5 separate regions of the Homo sapiens genome follow, and regions 1, 2, 4 and 5 are each linked to region 3. The links come from fine-mapping of genetic effects on gene expression. A gene starts in region 3. Each other region holds a variant in brackets. All regions are shown on one strand. Distances are between the middles of the regions. Region 1 has its middle 3.7 kb from the start of SPRYD3. Region 2 overlaps EIF4B (eukaryotic translation initiation factor 4B). Region 3 holds the start of EIF4B (eukaryotic translation initiation factor 4B). Region 4 overlaps TNS2-AS1 (TNS2 antisense RNA 1). Region 5 has its middle 21 kb from the start of EIF4B.

The links.
Region 1: its variant is fine-mapped to the expression of EIF4B in whole blood (INTERVAL, PIP 0.94).
Region 2: its variant is fine-mapped to the expression of EIF4B in whole blood (INTERVAL, PIP 0.93).
Region 4: its variant is fine-mapped to the expression of EIF4B in whole blood (TOPMed, PIP 0.99).
Region 5: its variant is fine-mapped to the expression of EIF4B in whole blood (TOPMed, PIP above 0.99).

Annotation. Positions count from the first base shown.
Region 1 is chr12:53,080,134-53,086,077 of GRCh38, forward strand. No RefSeq gene overlaps it. Among named protein-coding and RNA genes, the nearest start is that of SPRYD3, 3.7 kb to the left of the region's middle. The variant A/G (reference allele first, on the strand shown) is at 3,433.
Region 2 is chr12:53,026,832-53,032,775 of GRCh38, forward strand. It overlaps EIF4B (eukaryotic translation initiation factor 4B), which reads left to right. Exons shown (of 15, transcript NM_001417.7): 7 at 951-1,088; 8 at 1,184-1,357. Among named protein-coding and RNA genes, the nearest start is that of TNS2, 20 kb to the right of the region's middle. The variant G/C (reference allele first, on the strand shown) is at 2,890.
Region 3 is chr12:53,003,904-53,009,847 of GRCh38, forward strand. It overlaps EIF4B (eukaryotic translation initiation factor 4B), which reads left to right and starts at 2,553. Exons shown (of 15, transcript NM_001417.7): 1 at 2,553-2,593. The coding sequence starts at 2,581. RefSeq lists enhancers at 1,924-2,667, 2,668-3,411.
Region 4 is chr12:53,042,376-53,048,319 of GRCh38, forward strand. TNS2-AS1 (TNS2 antisense RNA 1) reads right to left here. Exons shown (of 4, transcript NR_033854.1): 3 at 3,586-3,686; 4 at 814-3,278. It also overlaps a transcript of TNS2 not described here. Among named protein-coding and RNA genes, the nearest start is that of TNS2, 4.7 kb to the right of the region's middle. RefSeq lists enhancers at 3,989-4,178, 4,259-4,308, 5,006-5,850, 5,851-5,944 and silencers at 4,819-4,888, 4,959-5,548. The variant CACTT/C (reference allele first, on the strand shown) is at 2,866.
Region 5 is chr12:52,982,620-52,988,563 of GRCh38, forward strand. No RefSeq gene overlaps it. Among named protein-coding and RNA genes, the nearest start is that of EIF4B, 21 kb to the right of the region's middle. The variant C/T (reference allele first, on the strand shown) is at 2,423.

The sequences.
Region 1 (5,944 bases), 76 kb after region 3:
CCTTGCTCCCTTCCCATCACCATATCTCTCTCTTCTGGACGGAAAAGATTCCTCTCCTCTGTAGCACCTCATTTATAATACTTTTTTTTTTGAGACGGAGTCTCACTCTGTCGCCCAGGCTGGAGTGCAGTGGCGCGATCTCGGCTCACTGCAAGCTCTGCCTCCTGGGTTCACGCCATTCTCCTGCCTCAGCCTCCCAAGTAGCTGGGACTACAGGCGCCCGCCACCACGCCAAGCTAATTTTTTTTGTATTTTTGGTAGAGACGGGGTTTCACCGTGTTAGCCAGGATGGTCTCGATCTCCTGACCTCTTGATCCGCCCACCTCGGCCTCCCAAAGTGTTGGGATTACAGGCGTGAGCCACCGCCCCCCGCCATTTATAACACTTATTACCGTCTTGCTTTCGTTATTGGAGTTACTTGTGTGTGTAGACCCGTCTCTGCTAGACTGTGAGCTCCTTCAGACCCCAGACTATTCTATTCTTATCACACTAGGTACTCTAACGTGTTGAGTGCCAGGAAAGCCATCAGCTCGCATACCGTGAATAGTGCCCACTCGGCATAACGGCAATGGGTGATAGGAATAGATGAGATGGGAAACAGAGAAACCCGGATTAGAGCCCCAATTCTGTGTGACTAAAAGGTCAAGGTCTTGGTGTTCTCATCCCTAAACAAGAATTATTGAAGTATGTGTTCTTTTAGCTCCCTTCCAGCCCCTGGATGACTCAGTTCTGAATAGCTACCCTTCCAACTCATCTCCACCTCCTTTTGATTCCCTCATTGCTTCTCCTCCGCTCCTCTTCTTGTGTTATGAAAATACCTCAACACTGAGCTCAGCTCTTCCCAAAGGCAGCCAGAGAGGGACAATCTTAGGAGGCTGCCAGAGTCATGTTCATCCCAGACCAGGGCTCATTCCAGAAACTAACTAGCTAGGTGGCTAGGGTCAGACATGGAGAGAAATGGCAGAAGAAGGCATTTCCAAACTGTTACTGATGGTTGGTGATTCCACTCGGGATTTCCTCACCTTTAAGTTCCAGATGTGGGGCTCACCTTTTTGGCGAATTCTCCATCCATTGGCATGCTCAGGACCCAGTTGGTAATTTGTGTTTGGTGTCTACATGTATTTGAATAAACAACTTTATTGCCATATAACCGACATACAATAAACCATATATATTTAAGGTGTACAATTTATTCCTTTCTTTTTTTAATTAGAGACGAAGTCTCACTGTGTTGCCCAGGCTAGTCTCAAACTCCTGAGCTCAAGCAACCCTCCCACCTCAGCCTCCCAAAGTTCGAGGATTACAGGTATGAGCCACTGCACCTAGCCAAGGTATACAATTTGATAAGCTACTTATATACCTATGAAAATGAAAATGTCACCACACCCAAGATAGTGACCATATCATCATCATCCCTAAAAATTTCCTCATGCTCCTTTATAATCCCTCTCTCTCACTCTTTCATCCCTAGGAACCACTAATCTGCTTTTTGAAACTTTTTTTTTTGAGACAGAGTCTCACTCTGTCGCCCAGGCTGGAGAGCAATGGGGCAATCTTGGCTCACTACAACCTCCACCTCCCGGGTTGAAGGGATTCTCCTGCCTCAGTTTCCCAAGTAGCTGGGATTATAGATGCCCGCCACCACGCCTGGCTAATTTTTGTATTTTTAGTAGAGACGGAGTTTCACTATGTTGGCCAGGCTGGTCTTGAACTCCTGCCTCAGCCTCCCAAAGTGCTGGGATTACAAGCATGAGCCACCGCGCCCAGCCCACTAATCTGCCTTTTTGTCACTATCTTAGTTAGCATTTCCTAGAATTTTATGTAAGTGGAATCATACAGTAAATCCTCTTTGAGGAGGGATGTGTCTGGCTTCTTTTGTTCAGCGTAATTACCTTGAGAGATTCATCCATATTGTTGTTTGTGTTAATAGTTTTTATTTATTTATTTATTTGGGGCAGGGTCTTGCTCTGTTGCCCAGGCTGGAGAGCAATGGCGTGATCAAGGCTTATTGCAACTTCAAACTCCTGGCCTCAAGTGATCCTCCCACCTTGGCCTCTCGATTGTTCCTTTTTATTGCTGAATAGTATGCTATTGTTGGAATATATTACAATTTATTTATTCACTTGTTGATGGACATTTGGATTTTTTCAGTTTTTGGCTATTACAAATAAAGCTATGATGAATATTCATGTACAAGTCTTTGTATGGACATATTTCATCTTCTTTTTCTTTTTATTGAGATGGAGTCTCACCCTGTCACCCAGGCTAGAGGGCAGTGGCATGATCTTGGCTCACTGCAACCTCCACCATCCAGGTTCAAGTGATTCTTGTGCCTCAGCCTCTCAAGTAGCTGGGACTACAGGCATGTGCCACCACGCCTGGCTAATTTTTTTTTTTTTGTATTTTTAGTAGAGATGGGGTTTCACCGTATTGGCCAGGCTGGTCCAGAACTCCTGACCTCACGTGATCTGCCCACCTTGGCCTCCCAAAGTGTCATTTTCTCTTAAGTAAATATCTAGGAGTGAATGGCTCAGTCACATGGTAGATGTACGGTTCTTAATTGGTTAAAAAGCATCACACTGTTTTCAGAAGTAGTTGTATCATTTTACATTCCTATCAGCAGTGTGTGAGTGTTCTAGTTGTTCCACATCCTTGCCATCACTTGGTATGGTTATTCTTTTTACTTTCAGCCTTCCTAATAGGTAGGTATCACAGTGTATGAGGGTTCCAATTTGTCTACATACTCAACAACACTTGTTATTATCTCTTTTTGATTATAGCCACTTAGTGTGAAGTGGTATCTCATTTCACTTTTGATTTCCATTTCCCTAATGACTAACGAGGTTGAGCATCTTTTCATATGCTTATTTGTCATCCATATATCTTCTCTGGTGAAGTATCTGATTAAATCACTTGCTCATTTCAAAAAATTGTTTCTTATTGCATTTTGAAAGTCTTTATATATTCTAGATTCAAATTCTTTATCAGATATGTGCTTTACAAATATTTTCTTCTAGTCTGCAGCTTGTCTTCTCATGTTTTTAACGGAGTTGTTCAGGCTGGGCATGGTGGCTCACACCTGTAATTCCAGTGCTTTGGGAGGCCAAGGCAGGGAGAATTGCTCAAACCCAGGGGTTCAACACCAGCCCTGGCAATACAGTGAGACCTGGTCTCTACAGAAAATTTAAAAATTAGCCAGTCTGTTGGCACACACTTGTAATCCTAGCTTCTTGGGAGGCTAAGATGGCAGGATCACTTGAGCCCAGGAGGCAGAGGTTGCAGTGAGCCATGGTTGTGCTGCCACTGCACTCCAGCCTGGACAACAGAGTGAGACCCTACCTCAAAAAAAAAAAAAAGTTCTGCCGGGTGCAGTGGCTCACAACTGTAATCCCAGTACTTTGGGAGGCCGAGGTGGGCAGATCACCTGAGGTC[A/G]AGGTCGGGAGTTCGACACCAACCTGACCAATATGGAGAAACCCCATCTCTACTAAAAATACAAAATTATCCAGGCGTGGTGGCGCATGCCTGTAATCCCAGCTACTCGGGAGGCTGAGGCAGGAGAATCGCTTGAACCAAGGGGGCTGAGGTTGCGGTGAGCCGAGATTGCACCATTGCACTCCAGCCTGGGCAACAAGAGTGAAATTCCCTCTAAAAAAAAAAAAAAACGGGCTGGGCATGGTGGCTCACGCCTGTAATCCTAGCACTTTGGGAGGCAGAGGTGGGTGGATTGCTTGAGCTCAGGTTTGAGACCAGCCTGACCAACATGGTGAAACCCTGTCTCTACTAAAATATAAAAAATTAGCCAGGTGTGATGGCACACACCTGTGATCCCAGCTATTAGGGAGGCTGAGACAGGAGAATCGCTTGAACCTGGGAGGCGGAGGTTGCAGTGAGCCGAGATCGTGACATTGTACTTCAGCGTGGGTGACAGAGCAAGACTCCCTCTCAAAAAACAAACAACAAAAAAAAGTTCTATGTGTTAGGTTTGCATTTAAGTCTATAATTATATAATTTAGGGTCTCATTCTATTGCCCAGACTGGAGTGTAGTGTTGCGATCTCAGCTCACTGCAACCTCCACCTCCTGGGCTCAAGCAGTCCTCTCATCTCAGCCTCCTGAGTAGCTAGGACTACAGGTGGACACCACCACAGCTGGCTAATTTTTATATTTTTTGCAGAGACAGGGTTTCACCATGTTGTTCAGACCTGATCTTAAACTCCTGGGCTCAGTGATCCACCTGCCTTAGCCCCCACCAACTGTTGGGATTACAGGTGTGAGCCATAGTGCCTGGCTCCTCTATCTGTATGTATTTGTTACTATAGCTTTATAATAAGTCTTGAAATCAGGTAATATAAGTCCTCCAACTTTCTGTTTTGCATTTCCATGTGAGATAATCAGCTTGCCAATTTCTATTGAAAAAGCCCCTGGCGGCCTGGCACAGTGGCTCACACCTGTAATCCCAGCACTTTGGGAGGCTGAGACAGGCAGATCACCTGAGGTTGGGAGTTCGAGACCAGCCTGACCAACATGGAGAAACCCCACCTCTACTAAAAATACTAAATTAGCTGGGCATGGTGGTGCATTATGCCTGTAATCCCAGCTACTCAGGAGGCTGAGGCAGGAGAATCACTTGAACCTGGGAAGTGGAGGTTGCAGTGAGCCGAGATCAAGCCATTGACCTCCAGCCTGGGCAACAAGAGCTAAACTTCGTCTCAAAAAAAAAAAAAAAAGCCCCTGGGGATTTTAATTGGTATTACATTGAATCTATTGCTCAATTTTGGAAGAATAGACATTTTAACAATATATCTTTAACAATATATCTTCTGATCCATGAACATGGTATATCTCCCCATTTATTTACATCTTTTTAAATTTGTCTCAGCAATATTTCATGGTTTTTAGAGTGTAGATATTTGTCAGGTTTATCCTTAAGTATTTCATATTTTTTACAATTTGGTTAATGTTATTTTAAAATTTCAATTTCCAGTATATAAAAATTATTGCTAGTATATAAAAGTACAATTGATTTCTATATATTGACTCTCCATATACTTGATTTTGATGTATGAAATTTAATTGCTATCTTCCTAAATGTACTCTGGCTGTTTAATATTAAATTATAGGCCCTCAGCTCAAAATTTTAGGAAAGGAAAAAAATATTTACTATATTTGATATTTTGTTCAGAGCCCAAGATACTTCTTCAACAGCTGTGCCACAGATAGGCTCTAGGAGTGCATAGCTGGCCTGCCCAAAAGGATAAGACCCAGCCCTCAAACAGCCCCAGGTTGTTTTTGGAAAGAACCCAGACTTAGGCTTGGGGTATTCTCATAGCTCAGGAAGAGGAAAGAGAGGAAATCTAGTCTTTTCATGACTTGCCAGAAATCTTTTATCTATTATTTTATTAACTTGTTTCTAACTTTTTTCTTTTTCAGCTTGTGCTGTTTGTTATAATAATATATTTCTTGTTTTTATTCCCTACCACATCCCCAACATAAGGCAATCATTCTTTTTATTTGCCTTAAAGCAATCTTTCTCTTGCCCTAGAAATTGCACACAGATTGAGTATTTAGAGAATTTAGCAAACAAGTCTGTATTTAACTTATCCGCACCCTTGATGTCTTTTTACATTATGAAATTTTTTGTGGGGTTGAGGGGAGGGAGAGCATCAGGAAAAATAGCTAATGGATGCTGGGCATAATACCTAGATGATGGGATGCTCCGTGCCGCAAACCACCATGGCACACTTGTTTACCTATGTAACAAACCTGCACATCTTGCACGTGTACCTCTGAACTTGGAAGTTGAAGAAAAAAGAAAAAGGAAAGTTTTCGTGTTTCAGTGAAAAGAGTTTTGAACTTGGAATCTAGTGGATTCTGCCATCTAGCTGTGTGGCCTTTGGCAAGATATTTAACTTATTTGGATACGTCTTCTTATCTACAAAGTGGAG
Region 2 (5,944 bases), 23 kb after region 3:
AGCTCAGGCAATCCACCAACCTCAACCTCCCAAAGTGTATTTGTACCATTTAAAATTATGATCAGCAGTGCAGAAATTGATTTAAGCTCCTAAAATTCAATAGAAAATTATGTCCTGTTAGTCATATGTTGCATATATTGTTTCTCATTTTGTTTGCCTCTTAAAGTGATCTTTGAGGCTGGGTGTTACGGCTCAGGCCTATAATCCCAGCACTTTGGGAGACCAAGGCTGGAGGATTGCTTAAGCCCGGGAGTCCAAGACCAGCCTGGGCAGCAGAGAGAGACTGTCTCTCAAAAAAAAAAAAAATTTTTTTTTTTTTTTTTTTTGAGACATAGTCTCACTCTCTCGCCAGGCTGGAGTGCGGGGGCATGATCTCAGCGCAACCTCCGCCTCCCGGGTTCACACCATTCTCTTGTCTCATCCTCCCAAGTAGCTGGGACTGCAGGTGTGCGTCACCACGCCCAGCTAATTTTTGTATCCTTAGTAGAGACGGGGTTTCACCATGTTGGCCAGGATGGTCTCGATCTCTTGAACTCGTGATCTGCCCACCTCGGGCTCCCAAAGTGCTGCTGGGATTACAGGCATGAGCCACCGTGACCAGCTAAAAAAATTTTTTTAATTAAAAAATAAGTGGTCTTTGGGATCAAACATGGGAGATTCCCAACTGTATTGTTTTAGTGTCTTGTGCTTTGTTTTGTTTTTTGTTTTTGCATGTAAACCTCTTCTCCTTCTGGAAATTCATTATGGAATATTTAGGGATTTTTTAATTTCCAACCCACCCTTCCCAAATTATTAGCTGAGCAACAATTATTTCACCAGGGAAACTTTTTGAAGAAATCAGATAGAAAATTTAAATAAACAGATTCTTCCAAATTGGACTGATAGCTTACCGTGTTTCTATTAATGGTGTCAGAGAAAAGGGGATGGTGTTACTTGTCTGTTTCCTCTAGAGTATCGAGATCGTTATGATTCAGACCGGTATCGGGATGGGTATCGGGATGGGTATCGGGATGGCCCACGCCGGGATATGGATCGATATGGTGGCCGGGATCGCTATGATGACCGAGGCAGCAGAGACTATGATAGAGGTAATTGTAAAACATGTCGAATTGCTCTTTCAGTAACTTTGCCTTTTTTTTTTCCCCCTCCGCTGTGATGATTATAATTTGGGATATATTTACAGGCTATGATTCCCGGATAGGCAGTGGCAGAAGAGCATTTGGCAGTGGGTATCGCAGGGATGATGACTACAGAGGAGGCGGGGACCGCTATGAAGACCGATATGACAGACGGGATGATCGGTCGTGGAGCTCCAGAGATGATTACTCTCGGGATGATTATAGGCGTGATGATAGAGGTAATAGTTTTCTTTTTACGTACTTCATGGAGCAGAAACTGGGAAAACTACGGAAAATTTGTGATTGTGTTACGAACTACTGAGTTGGGCACAAATATAATTTGCACATTGTACAGGAAGCAGCAAAGCATAGTAGAAAGAGCATTGGCTGGCCAGGTGTGGGCAGATCACAAGGTCAGGAGATCGAGACCATCCTGGCTAATGGTGAAACCCCGTCTCTACCAGGTGTGGTGGCAGACACCTGTAGTCCCAGCTACTAGGGAGGCTGAGAGAGAAGAATGGTGGGAACCCGGGAGGCAGAGCTTGCAGTGAGTGGAGATGGCGCCGCTGCACTCCAGCCTGGGTGACAGAGTGAGACTCCCCATCTCAAAAAAAAAAAAAAAGCATTGGCTAAGGATGACATCAGTGGAAACACAGCAGTCGAATTGTTTTCATCTCATATGCCTTCACAGATAGATTTTTCAGTTAAAATTTATTGAATAAACAGTAGAAATGGAAAAAAAAGTTGCCAGATACTGTTATGTTGTGATCTCAGTAAATTACACTTAAAACAGATGGTTTTAGCTCCATTTTCCAAGTAAGGGAAATGAAATTCAGATTAAACATAGTCCTGTAGCCCATAATTGGTACTATGGGGTTAAAAACGAAGCATTAAGGCCAGGTGCAGTGGCTCACACCTGTAATCTCAGCACTTTGGAAGGCCAAGGTGGGCAGATCATTTGAGGTCAAGAGTTCGAGACCAGCCTAGCCAACATGGTGAAACCCCGTCTGTACTAAAAATACAAAAATTAGGTGGCCGTAGTGGCACATACCTATCATCCCAGCTACTCGGGTGGCTGAGGCAGGAGAATTGCTTGAGCCCAGAGGCAGAGGTTGCAGCGAGCTGAGATCGCACCACTGCACTCCAGCCTGGGCGACAGTGAGACTGTCTCAAAAAAAAAAAAGGATTGCTTTCTGTACCATTATACCACAATAATTGATGTTCATTAATTATAAAGGTGAGATTTTGGTGCACCTATTCTAAAATTATGCCCCTAATACTATAAGATATAAAATGTAAACTGTGTTACAAATCTAACCTGTTATAAAATACTAATAAATGGCCACCATTTGTGTTCTAACTTCAGTGATGTCATATAAAAGGTTATGGTATCTGGCCCAGAATTTTTTCTATCCTTTTTTTATTTTATTTTTTTTTTTTTGAGACGGAGTCTTGCTCTGTTTGTTGCCAGGCTGGAGTGCAGTGGCATGATCTCAGCTCACTGCAACCTTTGCGTCCTAGGTTCAAGCAATTCTCTTGCCTCAGCCTCCCGAGTAGCTGGGACTACAGGTGCACGCCACCATGCCCAGCTAATTTTTGTAGTTTTAGTAGAGACAGGGTTTCACCATGTTGGCCAGGCTGGTCTCAATCTCTTGACCTCGTGATCCGCCTGCCTTGGCCTCCCAAAGTGTTGGGATTACAGGCATGAGCCACCGTGCCCGGCCAAATTTTTCCTATCTTTAACATCTTTGTGTTAGTCCTAAACTTTGTG[G/C]CAATGGCTTTATATCCATCATCTCCTGTGATTCCCCAAGAAAGGAAAATCGATCTGGACAACTAATAAAACACAGTGAGATGACAGAATTCATCAGAGCCATATGGCAATTCTATTGCAGTGAGGTCTTTCCTTCTCCCTCAGAAAATGGTGAAGTCTTTACTCCTTCCTCAAAATAATAATAATAATTCAATGTTTGTTTTTTTTAAAAAAAACTTAGGCCAGCCATGGTGGCTCACATTTGTGATTCCAGCACTTTGAGAGGCCAAGGCAGGAGGATCACTTGAGTCCAGGAGTTCAAGACAAGCCCTGGCAACATAGTGAGACCCCATCTCTGCAAAAAATACAAAAGTTAGCTGAGCGTGGTAGCATGTGCCTGTAGTCCCCGTGTCTTAGGAGACTGAGGTAGGAGGGTCGCTTGAGCCTGGGAGGTCAAGGCTGCAGTTAGCCAAGGTCTCATTTCAGCTTGGGCAACATAGTGAGACCCCATCTCTGCAAAAAATATAAAAGTTAGCTGAGCGTGGTAGCATGTGCCTGTAGTCCCCGTGTCTTAGGAGACTGAGGTAGGAGGGTCGCTTGAGCCTGGGAGGTCAAGGCTGCAGTTAGCCAAGGTCTCATTTCAGCTTGGGCAACATAGTGAGACCCCATCTAAAAAATAATAAAATAGGAAATAGGTTTTAAAAAATTATATTCTTTTTTTTTTTTTTTTTTTTTTTTTGAGACGGAGTCTCTCTCTAGTTGCCCAGGCTAGAGTGCAATGGCGCGATCTCGGCTCACTGCAACCTCTGCCTCCCAGGTTCAAGTGATTCTCCTGCCTCAGCTTCCCAAGTAGCTGGGCTTGCCACCACGCCCGGCTAATTTTTGTATTTTTAGTAGAGACGGGGTTGCACCATGTTGGCCAGGATGGTCTGGATCTCTTGACCTTGTGATTCGCCCGCCTCGGCCTCCCAAAGTGCTGGGATTACAGGCGTGGGCCACTGCGCCCAGTGAAAAAACTACGTTCTTAAAAGCGATTTCCTCAAGCAAGAAGCCTAAAAATAATAGCTAACATTTATTAACCATTTACTCTGTTCCATCAGTGAGCTGAGGGCTTGTACAAGTATTGTTTAATTCTAAGACTTCTGTGTGGTATAGGTAAAATTACAAGTTAGAAAAGTGGAGGCTCAGATGTGGGCCTCATGTTCTCCTTGACTTCTGACCTTTTCCTCTCTCACACTGTCCCTTACCTCCCCACCAAGAGCTGCATACCTAATTTTTTATTTCTCTTCTTGCTCTTACCCCCCCATTCCCTCTAAGATTTGCCCTCTTGTCTCTAGTTGCTGCTGCTACCTTCGTTGAGGCCTCATTGCTGCACCCACGTTACTGGCCATTGCCTCCTAACAGAGTTCCCTTTCTTGCTCCGTTCTTCACATTGGCCCCAGTTGTCAGTTGTCTTTCTGGCATAAGATCTAATTACCTTATTCTCCTGTTTAGACCTGTCTAGTTTCCCCATGGCCTGGAACATAGCCCTTTCTCTATACCTCTGACATACACGGGCCTTCACTGTTTGCCCAGCCTTTACTTTTTTCTTCTTGAGACAGGATCTCACTCTGTCGCCCAGGCTAGAATTGCTGTGACATAATCATGGTTAACTGTAGCCTCAGCCTTCTGAGCTCAAGTGATCCTCCTTCCTCATCCTCCCCAGTAGCTGGGACTAGAGGTGCGTGCCATATGCCTGGCTAATTTTGATATTTTTTCTAAAGATGGGGTTTCTCCACATTGCCCAGGCTGGTTTTAAACTTCCAAGTTCAAGTGATCCACTTGCCCTCGGCCTACCAAAGTGCTGGGATTACAGGCGTGAGCCACTGTGCCCGGCTGCGTTCTTTTATTAATATCTTAAATGAGCTACTTTTTCTGAGCCCCTATTTTATCTTACAAAAGTGACGGGGCTATAACACAGATTTAAAATATGTTTAGGAACATATATAAACTGTCGGCTTAAAGCCCTCGTAGAAAATTTAGATCTTGTTAAACAGTACCCTCTATCTACAGGTACTATGTGCATATGTAGTAAAAGTATAAAATCAAGTGTGGGCATGATGAAGTCACCATCTAGTGGTTATTTAGAGGACAGAGTACAGCTGGTCATGTCATCAGGAGGTTTTACCTCTTTGTTAAGGTTACATTACTTAAGCCAGGTGATTGTATACATAGGCTTTCTTTATATTCTCTGTATCTTTTGTATATCCAAAATATTTAGGACAAACAATCATTTTTAGAAATTTAACTTCCTTGAAACACTTAGGTTTCTCTTGAAAGTGTTCTGACAACTTGAATTGAGGAAGAAATCAGACTGCCTGCCTTAAGAGTTTATTTGTTCAGTGTTACATGCTTTGCCCCATGAACCACCTGCCAAATTTATATTATACACAGAGACAAGGGTATAAGATCTAGAGTCTTCCTGGCTGGGCGTGGTGGCTCACATCTGTAACAGCACTTTGGGAAGCCAAGGCAAGCGGATCACTTGAGGTCGGGAGTTCAAGACCAGCCTGGCCAACATGGTGAAGCCCCATCTCTACTAAAAATACAAAAATTAGTTGGGCATGGTGCCACGTGCCTATACTCCCAGCTACTGAGGAAGCTGAGGCAGGAAAATCAGGGAGGCAGAGGTTGCAGTGAGTTGAGATCACACCACTGCCCTCCAGCCTGGGTGACAGAGCGAGACTGTCTCAAAAAAAATAAAGAACTAGAATCTTCCCTATCATATTGTATTAGTTCTTAACATGCAGATTTCGGAGCAAGATACTTTCATCCAGTAGTTTAATGATGGTCAAAAATTTCTTCCCATATAAAAGAAGTCTTGATAGATTATTAATTTATTACTTAAATGTTTACCATTTTTAGTCTTTCCTGTGGTCTTGTACTACATCATGGATGTGGTAGAAGAGTAATTGAACTTGGGTTTTTTTGTTTTTTTTTTTTTTTGAGATGGAGTTTGGCACTTGTTGCCCAGTTTGGAGTGCAGTGGTGTGTTCTCAGCTCACTGCAACCTCCGCCTCCCCGGTGGGTTCAAGCG
Region 3 (5,944 bases):
CAGGAGAATGGCGTGAATCCGGGAGGCGGAGCTTGCAGTGAGCCGAGATCGCGCCACTGCACTCTAGCCTGGGCGCCAGAGCGAGACTCCGTATCAAAAAAAAAAAAAAAAAAGAAAAGAAAAAGGAATAAAAGAATGGCTACTCCATAGGCAGAGAGCAGCAGCATGGGCTGCTTGACTAAGAATACTTACCGTTATTTCTTGATTATATGGGAAACACGGGGTGGATTATTCATGTTTTCCCTGGAAAGAGGAGGGCGATTCCCGAACTGAGGGTTCCTCCCCCTTCCTCACATTGCCATGGCATCTGTAAACTGTCATGTCCTGGTGGGAGTATCTTTTACCATGCTAACGAATTATATTTAGCATATAATAAGCAGTGAGGAGAGGTCAATTTAGTCGCCATCTTGGTTTTGATGGGATTTGGCTGGCTTCTTTACTGCATGCTGTTTTATGAGCAAGGTCTTTGTGACCTATAACTTGTGTTGACCTCCTGTCTCATCCTGTGATTAAGAATGCCTAACATTCTGGGAATGCAGCCCAGTAGGTCTCAGACTTATTTTACCCAGCCCTATTCAAGGAGTTGCTCCGGTTCAAACACCTCTGACAATTGCACTCTCCATTCAGTAGCCTGAGTAATCTCTTTTTTTCTAATTAACGCGTGACTTACATAAAGTACACAAATCTTAAGTATTCACAAATCTTAAGTATACGAATTCTAGATATACACCCATGTAACCACCACTCACATCAGGATACTAAGTAATCCTTTTTAAAATTTTATTTCAACTCATGACATTTCTCTGCCTTAAATCATTCCACACTTTCCCAATCCCCTCACATGATCAGCCTCACATGATCCAGCCCCTCTCTCTCAAGATTCATCCTGTACCACTCCTCCCTCCCCTGCCCTCACCATATTGCAGCAAACCCAACTGCGCATCCTGTCTTCTCCTAAACCTCTTCAGAAGACATTCCCAGGGATGGCAGCTTGTAATTTAGACCTCTGTCTGAATGTCACTTCCTCAGAGGTCTACTCTGACAGGCAATCTAAAGTTGCACCTAATAACTTATTACACCACCTTGTTTTAATTACTCACAGAATACTTGTTGTAATATTTTATTAGTTGCTTATTATCTGTCCTTCCCCCACTAGAATATAACCTCTTTTGGGACAGTTCTATTCCATGTTGTACCCGCAAGTGTCTGTGCCTGGCACACGGTGGGAAACAAAAATTTTCATTTAATGAATGAAATGGAACATCAGCTAGGGGAAGCATGAATAGCCCTAGTCTCAGAAATCCTAAAGGCCTAAGTTGGACTAAACCTAGTCAGCAAATTGGACCATTAAATGAGGTAAAAGCCCATGACAATTAAGTGTTCAGCATTTGTTACCTTCTTATTCCGTCTAAATATGCCTCATTAAAACCATTCTTACACAAGACGTTCGATTTGTTTTGCCTTTACAAAAAGTAATTTGAAAACAAACAGTGGTTGATGCCTGTAATCCCGGCACTGTGGGAGGCCTCGGAGGGAGGAATGCTTGAGTCCAGGAGTTCGAGACCAGCCCAGGCGACACAGGGAGACACACCGCCCCCCCCAAGCCCGCCACTCTGTCTCCACACAAAGACTTTTTTTTAATTAGCTGGTCCTGGAGGCACTCGCCTGTGGTCCCAGCTACTCAGGAGGCTGAGGTGGAAGAACTGCTTGAGCCCCGGAGGTTGAGGCTGCAGTGAGCCGAGATCGCGCCACTGCACTCCAGCTTGGGAGACAGGGCGAGACCCCGTCTCAAAAAATAAAAATAAATAAAAATAAAATCAGTGATTTCTGATGTGGCTTTTAAAAACTAGGCCGGGCGCGGTGGCTCACGCCTATAATCCAGCACTTTGGGAGGCCGAGGCGGGTGGATAGCCTGAGACCAGGAGTTCAAGACCAGCATGGCCAATATGGTGAAATATCCCGTTTCTACTAAAAATACAAAAAACTAGCAGCGAATGGTGGTGGGCGCCTGTAATCCCAGCTACTCCAGAGGCTGAGGCAGGTGAATCGCCTGAACCCGAGAGGCGGGGGTTGCAATGAGCCGAGGTCGCGCACGCCATTGCACTCCAGCCCGGACAACAGGAGCGAAACTCCGTCTCAAAAAAGTACATTAAACTCAGAATCTTCCCTTTCAGCACATCCATTTCGCCACACCCATCACCGGCTCCGTGCAGAGTAAGCAGAAGCAGCAGCGAAGCCCCGCCCTTCCCGCCACTCTTCCGGCAGGAAGTCTGTGCGTCAGGAGGCCGGCCAGGACTCAGCTCCAGCCCCGCGCTCGCGTGTAGCCCTACGTAAAGCGTGAGGGGTTTCGCGACAACCCAGGCCCCGCCCCTTTGGCCACATGTCGCGCATGTCTTCCCGTCGGACGGCGTGCCACCTCGCCGCGCAGCTTTACGAACCTAGAGCAGCGCCGCCCCGCCTCCTGTCTCCGTCCTCACCTCCCCGCCCCCTCCCAGCTTCGCGTCTCCTAGCTCGACGCGCCCGCTATAATCACGTGATTGCCTCATCCGGGTCTTTTGCGTTCTCTTTCCCTCTCCCAACATGGCGGCCTCAGGTGAGCGAGCAGCCGAGCGCGGCCAAGGACTGGGCTCTGAAACCCCCCTCCGAGCGTGATCCACTGATTTCCTGAAGTCGGGGAATTGCTGGCACTGGTTCCTTTCTGAATTGAGGGCTGCGGCAGGCTGGCGGCGTGGCCCTGTTAGGTTACTGCCTCTGGATGTTTGGGGGGGAGGGGAAGGACACCTTCCCCTCCCCCTCACACTCTTTTCACCCTTTCTGCGCGAGATTGGAATAGGCAGTAATGGTAGACTCTGGCTTGAATTGGGGAAGGAGGCGCAGAAAGGTGTGCGGGTGGTGCGAGGCCTTTTCGTAGACGTGAATCACCGTGCCCGCGTGAAGGCGTGGAGGAAGGAAGGAGGCGGTTGCTGCGCGGACGAGTGCACATTAGACTACGTCTCCAAGGCGCGAGGCTGTAGCGGACCGGAGTGGGGGGTAGGGGAGTAAGTGTGGTGGGGGGGAGCAGTTGGAACGCGAGCGCGAGTTGGTGGAGGGGCGGGGGAAGGCAGCGGTGCGCGTGCGCGGTAGGAGACACGAGGGTAGTAGAGACGGGCGCGCCTTCAATGCGTGCGCTAGAACCCAGATGGGAAGCTTTTTAACGCGCCTGTGTTGCGCACTTATGTCCTTTTAGGTTGTCTCTTCCCTTTCTAGAGTGTGGGCCCTGTGCCTGTATTCTTCTAAGGGTGTGTGTGTTAGCCTTGGAGGTTGGTGCTATTGGCGTTAGATGGGGGTGGGGAATCCAGTTAGGTGCGCCCACGTGTTGGAGAAGCACCGGTGTGCACCTAGATTTCCTTCTAGGCTTTTTTCTCATACTCAATTGGAGGCATTTTTTACTCAGCGCAGCTATATGCCAGGATCAGGTTTCGCTTCCGGCGCTTCCATGTTGGTTGAATTTGGATAGCTCCAATGGTAGATTTCAGCCTTTTTTTTTTTTTTTTTTTTTTTTTTTTAAGGTAACTGTGCAACTACCAGCAGGTACTTTTAAAATAGTGCTTACTAATGGCTGGAGTTGCTTACTTCTTTAGACAACCTTGGAGGGGAGTATCAGTGCCTTGCAAGTCTAATTACATTTCTAATGGGCTTATAAAAGCAGTGATGACCCAACATCTTGTAGCATTGATTTTAGTTTGAGGAATATAGTTTGTTTTCTCTGGCATGACCTTGCATTCTTCAAAACATTATTTGAACTTCTATCTCTGGGTGCTCATTTCTTACCTAGTAATTCATCGTCTCTATTACAAAGAAGCTAAGGGTTTTGGTTGGCTTTGGAAAATGTTGAGAAATTTGAGGTGCATTTGAACATCTTTCATTGGTGTAACGCTTGACAGTTGACCAAGCACTTTTGTGCATGTTGTCTCCTTCCATCCTGAGGTACTGCAGAGAGCTAGTGGTATTTCTCAGCTAAGGAATATTATTTAAGGCCACACTGCTCTCAGCTGGCAGAGCAAGGTCATAATCTTTGAGACTCCTTAGCAACTTAAAAGTATCAAGGTGTCATCATCAGTTTAGGACGCTGCCCGAAAGCATCTGAAGTTTACAAAAATGTTCATATTTTTTTCTCCAGTGGGCTAGTAAAAGTCCTAAATATATTTTAAACTAACCATTGCTTAAAGTACTTACTTGGTCTGGATTTGCCACCTTAACAGTTTAGTATCGTAATTTAGTGAAGAAAATCTGTGTTTTCTTAACTTTTGTGTAATTTTTAGAGGCGGAACATAGGACAGCAATTCATGTCCTTCGTTTTACCGAGTTGAGGGAAATCCAGACTGATAAAAGGGATTTACTCTGACGTCCCATTCTCTTGTTCTTCCATATTTACTCTACCCCCTTGAAAACCCTCATCTCCTTTAATTCACTTCAGTAAATCTTTTTAGCTGGTACTGGTATCTGAGCACAAGTCACATCTTTCAGTCTGTTCTTGAGGAATCTGGGGTTTATCGGATTGTTTCCCCGCTCCTCTTTCCAGTCACACTGGCTTTGTGAAGTAACCAGTATTCCCTGATGTGGGAAATGGATGTTATGTGTTCTGTGTGAAAATACATAAAACAACTTCATACGCCTCTTTTACTGTTAAATGAGACCAAAAAATTCTTTGCAGCAATACCAGTTTCCAGTGTGATCCATTATTGACCTTCAAGAACTAAGGTAGGTCTCAGAACTAACTATAGAATGAGGATAGTTTGAATTCCTAGAAACTTGATACATTGAGCCAGTACACTTAATTCCTTGCTTTGCTTCTTAAAAAGAATTCTTAAAGGCCGGGCGCGGTGGCTCACGCCTGTAATCCCAGCACTTCGGGAGGTCGAGGCGGGCGGATCACTAGGTCAGGAGTTGGAGACCAACCTGACCAACATGGTGAAACTCTGTCTCTACTAAAAATACAAAAATTAGCTGGGCGTGGTGTCGCGTGCTTGTAATCCCAGCTACTCCGGAGGCTGAGGCAGGAGAATCGCTTCAATCTGGGAGGGGGAGATTGCAGTGAACCGAGATTGTGCCATTGCACTCCAGCCTGGGCAAAAGAGCAAGACTCCATTTCAAAAAAAAATCTTAAAAATACGAAGTTTTTCATTTTTCTTAAATTTTCATTGTGACTACTTTAGTAGACTTGCCAGTAATAAGCCAGTTACCGCTTGAATCTCAGTTTCTTTATCTGGAAAGTGGTCATTATTTATCTGCTGTCCCCTTACCTAGAGGGAATCAAATGCGTTTGATACAGGTTAACATTTAAAATGCTTTCAAATTGGGCAGGGTGCAGTGGCTCATGCCTGTAATCCCAGCACTTTGGGAAGCTGAGGTGGGTGAAACACCTGAGAACAGGAGTTCGAGACCAGCCTGGCCAACATGGTGAAACCCAGTCTCCACTAAAAATACAAAAATTAGCGGGGTTTTGGGCTGGGCGTGGTGGCTCACGCCTGTAATCCAGGAGGCAGAGGTTGCAGTGAATTGAGATTGCACCACTGCCCTCCGGCCTGGGCGACAGAGCGAGACTCCGTCTCAAAAAAAAAAAACAAAAACAAACTTTAAAATTGGAAATAACATATGTAAGCTCATGCACAGGCCTTTCATTTCCATAATGCTTCAAAATGCAGTCCTGTGTGACATCTTATTTGATTATTTTTATAGGGAGAAGATGCTCTGCAGTGGTTGTTTTCATACACTGCTGACTCTCACAGTGAAATGGTTTTAAGGGGTGCCATTATATATTGCTTACAGATTCCCTAGTGTCAAGTTCCATCCTCTATCATGTATATGTTATTCTGTGAGTAAGATACCCAGAAGGCCAAAATTAAAACTCTTTATGAAAGTTTAAATACAAATACAGAATAGTGTCAATTAAGATAAAGCAGTG
Region 4 (5,944 bases), 38 kb after region 3:
GTGTTTATTGAGGCCCAATAATAGAGTTTGCATCCTAGCTCCCCTCTGGCTTTTTTTTTTTTTTTTTTTTTTTTTTTTGCCTGGTGTTAAATTTTTTAATCACCTGGATGTGCCTGCAGTCTATTTCCTGTACTGTTTATTTTAATCAAGATGTGGGAACTCTAAGAATGAATCCTTGTGTCCTTGGGGCAGTTCCCTCATAATCTCCCTCCCTCACTTCAGCAATCTGGAGAGATGCTGCTCCCTTGAGTTACACCGCACTGGTGGACCAGAGATACTGGTGACAGGCTGGTCGAGGTTACCAGAACAGAGGCTCACAGACTCAGTGGGAATTTTCCAAACAGCTAGGGACAGACTGGTCATTGTTGCAAGGCGGGAAAGGGGTTAGGACAGTGGCAGAGAATCCTTAAGGTCACAAGGAGGTGGAGCATAGAAAGGAGCCCGGGAAACCTCAGTCAACAATTTTGGGGATTTAAGAGCCAAGATGAGGAGCCAGTTAAATGATTTCCCAGCCAATTGGAGCAGCTGCTCTTCTAGTTTCTGGCCAGTGCATTTATCTCTGTTCTCCAAAACTGGTAAAGTTGAAGGCTATGAGACTCAGCTGTGATGATGTGAAGGCTTTTCAATGTGGGTTTAGGTGCCCCTATTGTCCAGGCTGCCTGGAAACCTACAAGGTAATGCTTTTTCACTGCCTCTCCACCACAGGAATCAGTTTCACTCACATTCTCCAAGCCTTTGTTTCAAGCCACTCTCAGCTGTGCAATAATGAGGTCTAGGTAAATGATGGAAAGAAGGAACATAAAAATAGGAAAGGCTTGTTGAAAGAGGTTTATGATGGCTGTGTACAGAAAGGGTAGAGAGGAAGGCCCTATGTCCCAAAAGGTACTCTAAAGTCAGAGAAAACCTGGGCTGTAATATGGCCACATCCTCATTTAAATTTAAAAAGACGTGTGTGGCCAGGTGCCATGGCTCACAGCTGTAATCCCAGCACTTTGGGAGGCCAAGGCGGGCACATCATGTGGTCAGGAGTTCTAGACCAGCCTGGCTAATAGGGTGAAACCCCGTCTCTACTAAAAATACAAAAATTAGCTAGGCATGGTGGTGTACACCTGTAGTCCCAGCTACTCAGGAGGCTGAGGCAGAAGAATCGCTTGAACCCGGGAAGTGGAGGTTGCAGTGGACCGGGATCGCACCACTGCACTCCGGCCTGGGTGACAGAGCGAGACTCTTGTCTCAATGGTTGCTCACACCTGTAATCCCAGCACTTTGGGAGGATGAGGCAGGAGAATCGCTTGAGCCTAGAAGTTTGAGACTAGTCAGGGCAACATGGCAAGACCCTGTCTCTACAAAAAAATAGAAAAATTATCCAGGTATGGTGGTGTATGCCCATAGTTGCAGCTACTTGGGAGGAAGGATCACTTGAACCCAGGAGGTCAAGGCTGCAGTGAGCTGTGATCACACCACTACACTCCAGCCTGGGCAACAGAGCAAGACCCTGTCTCAAAAAAAAAGTGTGGGTCCACCGAGAAGCCCCCCAGCTGCAGGAGTGGACCCAGGACTGGTCAGCCCTCATTGTCAACGTCTTGTAAATCTTGAACTAGTGGACGAGTAGGGGGAAAGTGCAGGTGCAGCAACCTACTTCAAAAGGGCTAACTTGAGGCTGATTAGGTCCCGTGTGTCTCCCAGTCCACATTAGCCTCGTTTCTTCTCAATAGAATCAAGCACTATACTCCGGATCCCAAGGCACTAGGGTCCCAGTTCGTGCTGAGGGCGTCGCCTCAAGTGCTAAGCGAGCTCACAGCATCTGGTTTCTCAGGAAGTGAGAGAGCTACACATCTGCTCCTGGGAAGCATTATTTGTCAAATAAGCCTTGTTTCTCAGCAACCATTGTAGCCCCCAGGGCCACAAGTAAAGGGGGGCTTGCCTTCCCTTACCCTCCCCCAAAAGAAATTTGGAAGAGACGAGCTGAGCTGCTCCCCGCCCAGCTACAGCAACCTCCAGCTTGGACAATACACCCTCTGTCCTCAGCCAGGAGATCCGCCTCTGGAGTTGGCTCTGCCCCTTCCCCCACTCTTCCTGGTTCCCAGCACCCAAACCCTCTACTGGAGTTCTCCTGACCCAGTGGTCTCCAGCCAGGACAGTCCCACACCTTCAAATCCTCCCCCTACAGTCCCCGCACCCCAAGGATCTGAGCACATTCAGTTACAGGCATGGGGTCACCCCAGACCATGGAAGAGGGGGTTCCATCTTCAGTGCCAAGATGGACCACCCTCTGCATAGTCAAGGTAAGAAAACCTGTGTGGAGGGAGGTCAGAGGTGCTCCTGAAATTGTTTGACCTTTACTAACATCAACCTGGCTTTCTCCTCCTCTCCTTCTTCCTCTCTGAAGCTCCTGCTGCTGTGAGCTGGAAATCAGGATGCCTGGCTGGCCCATGAACCACTCATTTTTGTTTCACTCCCACCAAGCTACCTCCTGTATAACTTCTCATTCTCAGCTTTTCTCAGCCCTTCCTGCAGCCCCCTTCTCCACTATCCCCACATTGAGAGTAGGAATCAAGCCTGAGCTGGGAGTTTGGCCACCCATCTTGTGACCCTTTTCCAATTCCTTGGAACCTCTAAAGTTCTTCCCATGGGCCTGCCAGGCAGCAGCAAAACCAGCATGTGTGAGGTTCTAGCCCTTACCCCTCACCTCTCTGGGGTCCAATCAAGTTCCTCTTTGAGTCCCAGTCTCTCCATTGGTAACTTTAGAGCTTAAGTAAAGGTACTCCCATGGCATCCATCCCAGAGCCCAGCCAAAGACCCTAAGGAATGCTGGGAAGAGCAAGATGTTAAAAGAGCTGGTTGAAGGCTCCAGAGACATGAACA[CACTT/C]AATTATCTCATGATTCTCGATTACATAATCAAATCTGGCCAAAATACATGGGACAACCTTCAGCCTTGCCCTTTCTCCAGGAGCCTCCAATCCCTGCCACTTTCCTCGGTATTCCCCTAACTCTTGCCTCTCCCCTCCTCCCAGTGCCTCCCTACTCATTCCCGCCTGGCTTCCCCCACCCCCACCTCTCCTGTCCCCAGTCCCCAGTGACTCCCACTGCTCTAACCTCTGAAACTGTCTATTGGACACCAACTCAACCAAGAGCAGTAAGATCAAGGCTCCCCAGTCCCAACCATATCCACCCCTCCCAAATGCCAATTTCTGGGTGGGGGGGGACACACAGTCATCACGCACTTCTTCACAGACTCTTCTTCCCTGTGGCAAGATTGGAATCAGGTGCTCCACCCCCTGGAAATGAGAACCAGACTTCTCAGCCTTTGCCAAAGACAAGGGACCCAGTTGAGATGAGACGGGGAGGGAAAGAAGGCCTTAGAGCCAGTGGTACTGGCTACTTTGGGCAAGCACTGGGCATTGAGCCCTGGGCACTGGGTTCTCAGAATTCCAACCTTCCTTCCCCCCGCCCCTTTTCATCATGGAAAATCCAGCAGGGAGGGTGAAGGAGGGAGAAAGTTTCAGGAAGTGCTCACTGCTAAAGGACGTTGGGGGAATGTAGGAATGGCAACAGGTTCAGAACTTCTAGGAAGATGTCCCCTACCTTATCCCTACCCTCCACCTTCTGCTCCAGGGTGGCACGACTCAAACCTGCCCTACGGCCCATTAGCTCCATTCCATGAAGTTCCTATCCAGTACCAGGCACTGCAAAAGAAGGGAATGAGGTCAGACCATAGAAAGAACTTCCATCTCCATTTGGAAAGGCTGGACTCAAGTTAAATGTAAGGAAGACCTTCTCAGAGGTCTCCTGCGAACTGGGAATGACGGTCCAGCTCTTTAAAATAGGGCAATGGGCCGGGCACGGTGGCTCACGTCTGTAATCCCAGCACTTTGGGAGGCCAAGAAGGGGAAATCGCTTGAGCTCAAGAATTGGAGACCAGCCTGGGCAACATGGCGAAAACCCATCTCTACAAAAAATTAGCTGGGCGTGGCGGCGCCCATCTTGTAGTCCCAGCTACTCGGGAGGCTGAGGTGGGAGGATCGCTTGAGCCTGGGAGGCAGAGGTTGCAGTGAGCCGAGATGGCGCCACTGCACTCCAGCCTGGGCGACAGAGACAGACTCCCGTCTCAATGAATAAAGCAGGGCAGTGGATGGGATGGCTGGAGCTGCTTGCGGGTGGAGATGGGGGCTTGAGCCTGACGGAAAGGTCCCCAGCTGTGAATCCTTTGAGAATACTAGCCCAGGAGAAGTCTCCTGTGGGGCAGAGGACCAGGGAAGGGTGTCCAATGACTTGGGCCAAAAGTAACACCAGGTGTCTTCACCTGATTCAGGCGCCCGCCTGGGTAGGGGACGCTAGCACCACCAGGCTAAGCCACGGGTGGTCCTCTCAGGTCAGGCCCAAGCCCAGGCACACTCCTGTGGGGAGGGTAAGAGGCTGACGCTGCGCGGCAGTTCCCTGTCCCCTTGTTCCTAGTCCCTTCTAGACCTACGCCCACCGTTTCTTCTGCGTCTGTCTGGCTCGCGTGTTTCTTTCTGCCTGTGTCCCGCCGGGTCAGGCTCTCCCCGTCTCTCAGACTTTCCCGTCCCCGTGTCCTCCGCGGCCGTCTCTCTCCAACTCTCTCCCCCTCTCAGCCACTTCCTGTCTCCAGTATGTCCCTGGCGCGGCCCGGCTGGCCGTCTGCGCACCCTCTCTCCCCTCGGCTCTTTGTGAGTGTGGGTTCGCGGGAGAAGGTGGGGAGGAGAGGAGGCCGAGGGGTGGGGAGCTGGCGGAACGTGGGGATTGGAGCCGGGAGGGAGGAGGAGGAGGAGCGGGCTGCCACGGGCGCGGGCGCGGGCGCGGGGCGCGGCGGGGGCGGGAGGGAGCCCAGCCGAGCCCGGCCGCCCGCTCCCGCCACTGCCACCGCCTCCTCCTCCGCGTCCGCTCGGCGCGGGCACGGGCGGGATGGGCTGGCCCGGCGGCTCCCCCTGCTGCTGCCCCGCCCCGCCGCGCCCCCGCCCGGCCGGGCGCCCCCCGCAGGTGAGTGGCCGCGCCGCGCTGGGCGGGCGGCGGTCTCTGCGTCACGGCCGCGCGGGCAGTGCCAGGGGCGGGCGCCAGGGGGCGCGGGGCCGCCGGAGGTCGAGAGGGCGCGGGGCGCGGGGCGCGGCCCAGGGCTGGGGCCGGGGGCTCTGGCTGGCCGCGGAGAGCTGGGAGCAGCGGGAGGCCGGGACAGTGACTAGGGGGCGGGGCGCGGCCGCGGCCCTACTCGATCAGGCCGCCACGCCTTCCAGCACCCGGGGCGCACGGGGCCGCACGCCGTGCCACACACGCAGGCCCGGGACCCGGCAGCAGCTGGCAGCGGCGCTCGGGCCCCGGCCTGGCAGGGTGCGGGCGAACGTTTTCCTTTCCTGCTTCACATGTGGGACAGAGGCCGTAAGCGGGCACAGATGAGGCTGATTCGACTCGCCAGCCCCGCTCTGCGGCCCCCTCCAGTCTGCCCCCATCCTCCAGACCCTTCTGGGAACACCCCCAGAGCCGCCGCCCTCCCTCGCTCCTTCCCTGGGCCTTACCCCTCCTCCGCGGCGGCCGGGCTCCCAGCCTCCCTTCCAACCACAGCTATTTCCAGAAAGGGGGGTGTGGGTGGAGGGGTTTCTCCAAACAAACCCAAGACTTCGGAGAGAGAGGGGGCCCGGCTGGGGGAGAGGTTGACAGGCTCTGGAATGTTACAGGCGGGAGGAGGGTGAGGGTCCAAGAGGGTCTAGTGATGCCTTCCCAGCCCTCCTCAAGTGAGCTACTTTTCCCCTCGGGACTGGCTCATAGGGATCCCATCCCTGCTTCCCTTCCGAGGTGCGAGTGCCACAGGATGGGAGGGACTCACAGCCACAGTGGATCCTGACCACCCCACCCCTCACCGAGCTCACTGCTTGGGCACCTCCTTGCTGGGTCTGGGTGGGGAGTGTGAGACCAGTGAAGGTGAGAGGATGTC
Region 5 (5,944 bases), 21 kb before region 3:
AGGTAGAGATTGCAGTGAGCCCAGATTGCACCATTGCACTCCAGCCTGGGTGATAGAGTGAGACTCCATCTCAAGGAAAAAAAAAAAAGAGAGGCTGGGTACAGTGGCTCAGGCCTGTAATCCCAGTACTTTGGGAGGCCAAGGTGGGCGGATCACAAAGTCAGGAGTTCGAGACCAGCCTGGCCAACACAGTGAAACCCCATCTCTACTAAAAATACAAAAATTTGCCAGGCATAGTGGCGCACGCCTATAGTCCCAGCTACTCAGGAGACGAGGCAGGAGAATCGCTTGAACCCAGGAGGCGGAGGTTGCAGTGAGTTGAGATCGCACCACTGCACTCCGGCCTGGGCAACAGAGTGAGACTCTGTCTCAAAAAAAAGAAAAAGGGAACTAGGGTTTCGGACAAGACCAAATGACATAGTAGAAAAAGCTTTGAAGTCAGACCAGATCCAAGTTTGAATTATTTATTTGTTGTTGAGTATCACAAACTGTCAGTTCACTCCCTGGATAAAAATTGCATGTGAACACCTCTAGCCAGGGCATGCACTCCTCAATCTTCCATAGTCTGCACCACTCCCAGTGACCTACACCACTTCGCACACTTGCCTATCTGAACCCTGACAGTATTTGAATTTGAGACCCTTAAAAATATTATTCCACTTGATCTTTAACAGGGGTTTGTAAGGAAGGCAGTAGCATAACAAAGGTAGGAGGGTAGGAGGATTCCACCCTGAGTCAGGCAAGAACGGATGTTTAGTCCGTAACGAATTTTATTTTATTTTATATTTTATCTATTTTATTTTATTTTATTTTTTGAGGCAGAGTCTCCCTCTGTCACCCAGGCTGGAGTGCAGTGGCAAAATCTTGGCTCACTGTAACCTCTGCCTCCCCAGTTCAAGTGATTCTCCTGCCTCAGCCTCCTGAGTAGCTGGGATTACAGGTACATGCCACCATGCCTGGCTAGTTTTTTTTGTTTGTTTGTTTGTTTTTGTTTTTTTGGTTTTTTTTTTTTTGAGACAGAGTTTCACTCTTGTTGCCCCGGCTGGAGTGCAATGGCACAATCTTGGGTCACCACAACCTCCACCTCCAGGGTTCAGGAGATTCTCCTGCCTCAGCCTCTGGAGTAGCTGGGATTACAGGCATGTGCCACCACGCCTGGCTAATTTTGTATTTTTAGTAGAGACGGGGTTTCACCATGTTGAGCAGGCTGGTCTTGAACTCCCAACCTCAGGTATTCTGCCCGCCTTGGCCCCCCAAAGTGCTGGGAATACAGGCATGAGCCATCGCACCAGCAGTTTTTGTATTTTAATTAGTATTATCAGTGAATTAATAATATCTGCCCTATGATTATAAAATTGAGCAGTATAAAGATATACAATGAAAAGAAAGTCTTCCTCCTACCCAGCACCCAGCCCCACAACCCACTCCAGAGGCAACCATTATTTACAGTTTTTCAACGTATAGGTGGATATCATTTTAACCTAATTTTACAAATGAGGAAACTGAGGCTTAGAGAGGTTGAGTGGCTGTCCTGAGATCACGGGCCTGATGGAGCTAACAGAGATGATATCAGATCTTGTCCTTGACACTGCATTGCCACCCTAACATCATCCTGCTTCACACATACATCCTGGGTATGCATCCTGGACTGAGAGTCCTCAGAGGGCAGGAGTTGCCCATGGAACCTGCTAGGGGCAGTAGTCAGCACTGGGCCACTGGGTGCTACAGCAGGAGGCCTGGGATCTGCACCATGATTAAGCTGCTGTGTGATGTTGAGCAAATCTCTTGATTTCCTCACTTGCCTTTCTTTCTCACTAGGCTATATTGAGATTTAAACAAGCCAAGTAGAAAGATGATTGGAGAGTAAAGATGTCATACAGATTCAAGGAGGGGTGAGGACAGATATTTAGTATAGGGTTAACTTTGTACTTTCCTTGGAGCACACGTGTCCATGTTCAGATACTTTACAGATACTTTAACTTGAGCACATGCGTCCTTGTTCAGTTCCTTGAAAAGTGTTGCTTGTTCACTGCCTTTCTTCTTTTTTTTTTTTTTTTTTTTTTGAGACAGAGTCTTGCTCTGTCACCCAGGGTGGAGTGCAGTGGCGCGACCTCAGCTCACTGCAACCTCCACCTCCTGGGTTCAAGTGATTCTCCTGCCTCAGCCTCCCAAGTAGCTGGGACTGTAGGCACGTGCCACCACACCCAGCTATTTTTTGTATTTTTAGTAGAGACGGGGGTTTTACCGTGTTAGCCAGGGTGGTCTCAATCTCCTGACCTCGTGATCCACCCGCCTCAGTCTCCCAAAGTGCTGGGATTACAGGCGTGAGCCACCGCGCCCAGTGCCTTTCTTTCTTTTTTTAGACAGGGTCTCGCTCTGTCACCCTTGCTGTAGTGCAGTGGCACAGTCACCACTCACTGCA[C/T]ACTTGACATCCCAGGGCCAAATGATCCTCCCACCTCAGCCTCCTGAGTAGCTGAGACTACAGGTGTGCACCACCACACCAAACTAATTTTTTATTTTTTGTAGACATGGAATCTCACCATATTTCCCAGGCTGGTCTCAAACTCCTGGGCTCAAGGGATCCTCCCCCTTGGCCTCCCAAAGCACCGGGACCACAGGCACATGCCACCATGCCTAGCTAATTTGTTTTTGTTCGTTGGTTGGTTTCTGTAGAGATTGGGATCTCACTATGGCTGGTCTCAAATTCCTGAGTTCAAACCATACTCCTGCCTTGGCCTCCAAAAGCACTGGGACTACAGGTGTGAACCACTGTGCCCGGCCTTCTGCCTCTCTTCTTTTTTGTGTGTGTATCGGGGTTTCGCTCTTGTTGCCCAAGCTGGAGTGCAATGGTACGATCTCAGCTTACTGCAACCTCGCCTCCCAGGTTCAAGCAATTCCCTGCCTCAGCCTCCCAAGTAGCTGGGATTACAGGCATGCACCACCATGCCCGGCTAATTTTATATTTTTAGTATAGACAGGGTTTCACCATGTTGGCCAGGCTGGTCTCGAACTCCTGACCTCAGGTAATCCACCCGCCTCGGCCTCCCAAAGTGCTGGGATTACAGGTGTGAACCACCGTGACTGGCCTTCTGCCTCTCTTCTTTGGAAGAGGGTTGACTTCCATTTCTCTACAAGCTTCAAGCCCAGTACAGGTAATAAGCCCATCAAATTGGCTGCACAACCACCTAGAAGGTTTGGGGCCAAGCCACATACTCAAGTAATGACACTTCTTTCAGGGAGCAGCACAGGGCTCCCAACCCATTTGGGACACAGGACAGCCGAGGCAGAAAATTCAATCGTGGTAGACAGTGTATCTCTCCAAAGAAGAAACACTTGTCTTCTGCCTCCAGCTGACATTCTGTGACTGCACAGACAGCACTATGTCAATTTAGCTATTACTACATAAAAAACCACTCCAAGACTTAGAGGCTTAAAACAATAATTAGCTCACAACTCTGCAATTTTAGCTGGGCTCAGCTGAGCAGTTCTGTTCATCTCACTTTGAGTTGCTTAAGTGGCTACAGTCATATGGATCAGGATGGTCTATGATGGCCTCACTCACATAACTGGCAGTTAGCTGGGATTCTCAGCCAAAGCACCTCACTTCTCCTGCCTGTGGCTCTCCAGCAGAATAGCCTGGGTTCCTTGCCTGGTATCAGCAGGTTCCAAGAGAGTAAAAGTGGAAGTCACAAAATCTTCCAAAGTCTAGGCTCCAGAAGTCACATATTGTCACTTCTGACACATTTGTTAGCCAAAGCAAGTCACAAGGCAATGCCAAATTCAAAAAGTAGGAAATAGACTCTACCTTTTGATGAAGGCACTGCAAAATATTTTGGTCATGCTTTTCAATCCATCACACACTTTCTAATCCATCATTCAATAATTCTCCAATCAAGCAGCCTGTACTTATTGAATACCTAACATACCTAATACCTAAATATTGTGCTAGATGGCAAAATACAAAAGAATGCTAAGACCAAGTCTTTGCTGGAAAAATTTTAAAAGATCTTAAAATGAGCTAAAGATTACTGGGTACCTTTTTAGTGGAATGCTGGGCTTTGTATAGAGAACTTTCAGTGTTATTTGATTTTGTAGTGGTCTGTGTCTTTGTGTTTTTTTGTTGTTTCTTTCTCATTTTATAAAAATAGTTTGTTTCAAAGACTCAATTGTCCTTCAACTTCTTTTTTTTTTTTCTTTTTTCTTTTTCAGACGGAGTTTTACTCTTGTTACCCAGGCTGCAGTGCAATGGCGTGGTCTAGGCTCACTGCAACCTCCACCTCCCAGGTTCAAGAGATTCTCCTGCCTCAGCCTCCCAAGTAGCTGGGATTACAGGCGCCCATCACCATGCCTGGCTAATTTTTGTATTTTTAGTAGAGACAGGGTTTCACCATGTTGGCCAGGCTGGTCTCGAACTCCTGACCTCAGGTGATCTGCTCACCTTGGCCTCCCAAAGTACTAGGATTACAGGCATGAGCCACTGCACCCAGCCCCTTCAACTTCTTATTTTTGGATATACCAAGAATATAATCAATGTGCTCAATATAATTTTTGACTGCTTTTGACTAGACTCTTATAGCTCTGTAAGTTTAAAAAAAAAAAAAACTGATGGTAGGCCAGGTGCAGTGGCTCATGCCTATAATCCCAGCATTTTGGGAGGCTGAGGCGGGTGGATCACCTGAGGTCAGGAGTTCAAGACCAGCCTGGCCAACATGGTGAAACCCCATCTCTACTAAAAATACAAAAATTAGCTGGGCGTGGAGATGCACAGCTGTAACCCCACTTACTCAGGAGGCTGAGGCAGGAGAATCGCTTGAACCCAGCAGGCAGAGGGTGCAGTGAGCCAAGATTGCACCACTGCACTCTAGCCTGGGCGACAGAGCAAGACTCTGTCTCAAATTAAAAAAAAAAAAAAAAATTAGCTGGGCATGGTGGCAGATGCCTGTAATCCCAGCTACTTGGGAGGCTGAAGCAGGAGAGTTGCTTGAACCCGGGAGGCGGAGGTTGTAGTGAGCCGAGATCGTGCCCCTACACTCCAGTCTGGGTGACAGAGTGAGACTCCATCTCAGGAAAAAAAAAAAAAAAAAAAAAAAGAAAGAGAAGAAAGAAAGGGAGGAAGGAAGGAAAGAAAAAGGGAAAGAAAAAAAGAAAGAAAGAAATGTTTGTAGGTTGGGCGCAGTGGCTCACGCCTGTAATCCCAGCACTTTGGGAGGCCATGGTGGGCAGATCATGAGGTCAGGAGTTCGAGACCAGCCTGGCCAACATGGTGAAACCCCGTCTCTACTAAAACTACAAAAATTAGCCAGGTGTGGTGGCGGGTGCCTGTAGTCCCAGCTACCCGGGAGGCTGAGGCAGGAGAATCGCTTGAACCCAGGAGGCGGAGGTTGCAGTGAGCCAAGATCGTGCCACTGCACTCCGGCCTGGGCAACAGAGCGAGACTCCATCAAAAAAAAATACAAAAATACAAAAATTAGCTAAGCATGGTGGTACATGCCTGTAATCCCAGCTACTTGGGAGACTGAGGCAGGAGAATTACTTGAACCCAGGAAGCGGAGGTTGCAGTGAGCTGAGATCATGCCATTGCACTCCAGCCTGGGTGACAAGAGCGAAACTGTGTCTCAGAAAAAAAAAAAGAAAGAAAGAGATGTTTGTTGTTGGCCGGGCGCGGTGGCTCACGCCTGTAATCCCAGCACTTTTGGAGGCCGAGGTGAGTGGATCACCTGAGATCACCTGAGGTCAGGAGTTCGAGAGTAGCCTGGCAAACCTGGTGAAACCCCGTCTAAAAATATAAAAATGAGCCAGGTGTGGTGGTGGGTCCCTGTAGTCCCAGCTACTCCGGAGGGCTGAGGCAGGAGAATTGCTTGAACCTGGGAAGTGGAGGTTGCAGTGAGTCGAGATTGCACCAGCCACTGCACTCCAGCCTGGGCGACAGAGTGAGACTCCGTCT